Linked DNA regions of Homo sapiens: region 1 is linked to region 2. A link means that fine-mapping ties the variant in region 2 to the expression of a gene that starts in the linked region. Tissue or cell type: cerebellar hemisphere. Region 2 holds a variant in brackets; the other region holds the start of a gene. All regions are shown on one strand. Distances are from middle to middle.

Region 1 (2,682 bases), 510 kb after region 2:
AGAGCGCAGCCCAAGAAGAGGTGCAGGAGGGATCATCCCAAAAGAAAAGACTCTCCCCTGCTCACACCTAGCTGACCTGGTCCTCCTGACGCCACATCCAGCAGAAGCTGCAGGACAAGGTAGCAGCAGCTCCAGGCCTCGGCCAAGGGCAGCCCCGGGCCTGGGTGGGGCCGGGCGGGGGCCGCAGGCGCCGAGCGGCCGTGCCAAGCCCCGCCAGCGAGAACCAAGGAAGCTGCGATACTGCTGCATTGTGCTGCATCACGGCGAGGGCACCGTGAGCCATCCATCTTGCCAAAAAAGCACATCCCCGCCCAAATAAACCCCACCGAATTCAATTTTCTGCTCCGCCGAAGCACCCCCACACGCACCCTGTCCTCACTTACTATCTGGCCTGGCTTTCGATTGGAAAAATAATGGACAGAGGTTTGCGTTCTGATCCCCACCCCCTCCTCATCTGATGGCAGCAGTTGGCACCTTTCCTATCACAAAAACAAAGAGAAGGCGCCCCCTAAAAGAGGGCCGTGGGCGTGGTGTGGGGGGTGATGACGAGCCAGCCCACCTACCCAAAGCAGGCCCGGAGGGTCCCTGCGCTGAGACAAACCTGTTGAAGAGAGGGTGGCAGGAGCTGAAGGGCGGGCGCAGCGGCGGCTCGGCGCCCGGAGGCGGCTCACGCCCAGCCCTGGGAGAGTGGGGACGGCAGAAAGGGCGGGGGGGGGGCGGGCGCACGAGGGTAGCAAGCGCAGGGATGGGGCGGAGGTGGGGGCGCGGGGCCGCCGCCTCCGGCTCAGCTGCAGCGCGGCGCAGCCGGGACCACGCCTGGCCGCATCCCCTGCACCGCTACGCGCAGAGCCCGGCCCTGTCACCGCCGCCCCCGCTCCCCACCCGCGGGGCCACAGAGAGGGCACCTGAAAATAGACCCTCCGGCTGTCCGCTGTCCGCTCCGCACCCACCTCCGCGCCAGGGGCCTCCGCGTCAGGGGCCGCCGCGCCCGGCTGCAGGGAGGCGCCGGCGGAGGCAGGGAGGAGGAATCGCCGCGCCGCGCCGGGGCTGGGGCCGGACGGCAGCGGTGCGCACGGCGGGTCTGCTGCCGCCTCACCGCAGAGCCTGCCGCCCCTCGTCCCGCATCATCCGAGTACCAATGAGCACCCGCGACCCGGGCTCCCCGCGCCGCCCCCGCCCGGGCTTTGCAGCCTCCCTGCCCCCACGCGGCTCCCCGGGCGCAGGGCAGGCGGGCAGCGGCGTCCTCCGGCCCTGGGCCCGCGCCCCTCCTCCCGCCCGTCCGCCGCCGCGGAGCCCACCCGGGAGGCAGCCCCAGTGAGTTGGCATCTCCCTGCCTCGGGCCCCCTACCTACCTCCCGGGGATGGGGTGGGGGCGCCGGGGTCCCGTCCTCCTCCCGCTCCTCGGCGGCCGGGCGGGTGGGCCGGGAGGCGACTCCGCGGGTCTGTCCGCGGCTGGGGCCGGGGCTCACAGGACGGGACCAGTGGGCGCTGCTGCGCAGGGCTGCGCGCTCGCTCCGGGAGGAGAGGCGGCCGAGGGAGGGACTGGAGGAATCCGCAGCCTGCACGGCAACAGCGGCACTGATTCCGGGGGCTGGGCGGGAGCGCGGGGGGCGGGGGGAGGAGGAGAGGAGGGCGCTCGCAGGGAGGGGGCGAGGGGCGGGGAGAGGAGCGCGCGGGGCGGGCGCGCGCGCACACACACACAAGCGCACTCCCGGGATCCCTCCCGCACGCCCTCCGCCCTCCGCACTCCTCCCTCCCCACTCCCGCCCGCTCCCTCTGCTTCGCCCGCCCTCTCCTCCTGCCCGGAGCCCCGCAGCCGCCCAGGGAGCCGAGCCTCGGGCGCGTCCACGTCCTCTCCAGCTGAGGCTCTTCCCGGGTCCAGCCCGGACCTCATCCTCCCAGCGGCGGGGACCGACCAGGCTGGCCGGGGCGGGGTGGGCACTGCTGCTGCCGCTACCCGAGCAGGACAATAGGGGCTTTGTCTCCACAGCCGGAGAGGGCCAATTTCACGTTTAATTTGAGGCTAATTCGATTATCGCCATGGAAAGAGGCGGTCTAATTTTCTACGTGATTTGTGCAGCCTCTTTTCGCCCTTGATGTTGCGTTCGGAATGCTGGGGAGAGAGGGTATTTAGGGAGGTTTTGGAGCGTCACTTGCTTGGTTGGTTTGAGATGCAGTTGGTGATGCCTTATAGGTTCTACCCAACTTGGAGAAGGGCGACGGCGACCTCTTCGTGGGAAACCTTGGGCGCTGGAGGATGGGTGGTGGGGGTCGTTCCTTGTGAGGTTAATGTATTCTTTTGCAAATGCTTTTTCGCCCACCCTTTCGCTTTGGGTAGCTGGGAGCAGACCCTACAAGTGGTTCATCCAACTCCTGCCTCTCAGTGCAGGCTCCGCTCGAACCTGAGGCCAGGTGCCCTGCCCCAGTCACTCCCGAGAGAGGGGTCGTCCGGCCGCGGTGGAGGGCCCCGTGATGGCGTGGGGACTTGCGTTTTCCCCTATGCGCATTCCCTGAAACGGAAACTGGACGTTTCCTCAAATTTTTGTCATGTGCCACTGCCCCTTCCCAGTCACCTGGTCTACCCCGTCAGCCCCTCAGGCTGTGTAGAAATTCCAGAACCGTCACTGTTGTGAAGAAAAGATGGTGGAATCACCAGGACCACGAATGGAAACGCTCTTTAGA
Region 2 (2,682 bases):
AAATTAGCAAAGACTTGTCTAAGAGTGAGAGTGGGAGAAGGTATTCTTTCATAGGTGGCTTGTTGAAAGTGACCCTCTCACAACTGAGTTCTTTATTCCAGCCGTGGCTGGAATGGGAACCACTGGTAAGCAGAATGCTTGCCTTTCTCCTCCATGCCCAGACCACCCACTTAGGTACCTGATATCTTGGATAGCAGATTTCCGGTCTCGTTTTTTCCCCCAAACTTTCAGGCTGTTCACCAACAAGATGACAAACTCTCCATTCTTCATGCCAATGGCCACCATCTCCCCATCAGGGCTGTAGGCTGCACACCTGGCCGCATGGCCCAAGCTCACCTTGTTTAACAGCTTCTACATTGATGCAAAGGAAAGTCACCTGAGCTCTTGGCCCCCTCAGCTGGTCTCCAGGAGACATTCTGCACCAGGCCAGAGAAGTCAGGCTGCCCTCGCAGCCACTGCAGGCCACCAAATCTCTTGCTTCTTAGAGTAAATGTCCCTGAATAACTGAGCAGAGCTGTATGTCTTGATTAGAGCAGCTTGGGGGACAACAAGTTTTAGGGCACAGGCTGCCCAGCTTTTTCTGTAAATGATTAGGTAGCACCCACTTTAGACTCTGTGGGCCATAGTCTCTGTCGCAACTACTCACCTTTGCCACTGTAGCACAAGACAGCCTCAGTACCTGAATAAATGAGGGCAGCTGGACTTGTAGAAACAGGCCACAGGCCCGATCTGGCCTTTAACTGTAGATTGCCAACCTCTTCTTTAGGGGAAAGAGTGTGAGCTTCTGCCTCTGCTAGTTCAAATTCTGAATCCTGGCCCTGTCACTTACTAGCTGGGTGTGTTTGGGTAAATTACATCTCAGTTTTTAGAGTTTTACTAATAGCGATGTTAATAAGGGTTTTGCAAGGTTATTGTAGGCACTGATCATGTCCATGAAGCAGCTGGTGTTATGTAGTTAGTCAAGTAGTGACAGCTGTTGCTAATAATGTTTAATAAATAATTACAGAAACTAACTTAAAAGTCTAGCAACCATACTCAAGCTTTTACCTGACTATTCTGTGACTCTGACACTAAAAATACAACAAACACTTACCAGCCATTTTAAAATGAAACCAAGTATTTTAATTAGTTGAACTTGAGTACTTGTTTTAACACTGGATAAGGCCATGAGGATCGGCAAGAACTCTTTGTTCCCTCCCACCCACCCCGCTCCGCCCAGCCACTCCTTGCTATTTCACAGTTTTACTCCAGATGAACTTTAACATTGCCTTCCCAAGCTCTAAGAGAAACCTTGTTGGGATTTTGACAGAAATACATTAGGCCCATTTCAGAACATTTCACATTTTAAATCATTTTTAGTCTTCTCATCCAGGGAAAACATGATTTGTCTCTATATTTTTAGTTTTGTGGGTTCTTTCATGACAACAGAATAATCCTTCTCAATTATATTGTTTAGACGGGGTGTGGTGAGTGGGGCTTCTTTTATCGTTAGGTTTTCTAACTCGATCTCCTACCTGGCCCCATCCCCGTCTCTGCCATGACGCTGGCTGGGCCTCTCCTCGCTCAGCTCCCACTGC[C/T]GCGCAGCCCACTCGTGGGCATCTGAGTTTGGGCAGAGTCGGCCTCACCTTGTCAGCCAGGTCCCAGATCCGGGCTGTGCCATCGTTGCTGGCAGAGATGAAGAGGTCCTTGGAAGGGTGAGTGGCCAGGCCCCAGATCTCCCCTTCCATGTGACCATCAATCAGGATGTTAGAAGCAGCATTTTTTTCACCAACTTCAATTATTTCTCCGTCTTTGGTTCCCACTAAGATTTTTCCCTGTTGTAATTGAAACACTATTAGAAAAAGGACAAATACTGTATGACTGCACTCATATGAGGTATCTAGAGTAGACAAATTCATGGAGACAGAAAGTAGAATGATGACTGCCGGTGAATGGGGGTGGTGGACAGGGGAGTCAGTGTTCAGTGGGTACAGTTACAGTTTTGCAAGAAAAGTTCTGTGGATGGTGGTGATGGCTGCACAACATGTGAATGCACCTAATGCCACTGAATTGTATATTTACAAATGGTCAAAATGGTCAATTTTATGTCTATTTGGCCACAGTTAAAAAAATTTAAAACACCACTATTATTAGAAAAACTTGGGGATTGCTTGAGCCCAGGAATTTGAGGTTGCAGTGAGCTATGATGATGGTACCACTGCACTCCAGCCTGGGTGACACAGTGAGACCCTGTCTTTAAAAAAAAAAAAAAAACAAGTAACTTGAGAAAATGCCTTTGCAGTGTTAATATTAAAATAAGAAGGGGTGAGAAGTGTTGTTTTTGTTTGTTTTTTGAGGCAGGGTCTCACTCTGTCACCCAGGCTGGAGTGCAGTGGTGACATCTTGGCTCACTGCAACCTCTGCCTCCTGGGTTCAAGCGATTCTCCTGCCTCAGCCTCCCCAGTAGCTAGGACTACAGGTGCCCGCCACCACATCTGGCTAATTTTTGTATTTTTAGTAGAGATGGGGTTTTACCATATTGGCCAGGTGGTCTCGAACTCCTGACCTCAAGTGATGTGCCTGCCTCTTGGCCTCCCAGAGTGCTGGGATTACAGGTGTGAGCCACCATGCCTGGCCAGTGTTTTGTTTTTAACAACAAACTGTCCATTCTTAATTGCTCTTCTCCACCCTCTTACTTTGCCC

Evidence for each region. PIP is the estimated chance that this variant, and not a neighbour inherited with it, causes the effect.
Region 1: SPTBN1 starts here. The variant in region 2 is fine-mapped to the expression of SPTBN1 in cerebellar hemisphere (GTEx, PIP 0.98).

Annotation. Positions count from the first base shown.
Region 1 is chr2:54,455,189-54,457,870 of GRCh38, reverse strand. It overlaps SPTBN1 (spectrin beta, non-erythrocytic 1), which reads right to left and starts at 1,544. Exons shown (of 36, transcript NM_003128.3): 1 at 1,353-1,544.
Region 2 is chr2:54,961,655-54,964,336 of GRCh38, reverse strand. EML6 (EMAP like 6) reads right to left here. Exons shown (of 42, transcript NM_001039753.4): 36 at 1,626-1,814; 37 at 179-351. Among named protein-coding and RNA genes, the nearest start is that of RTN4, 87 kb to the left of the region's middle. The variant C/T (reference allele first, on the strand shown) is at 1,578.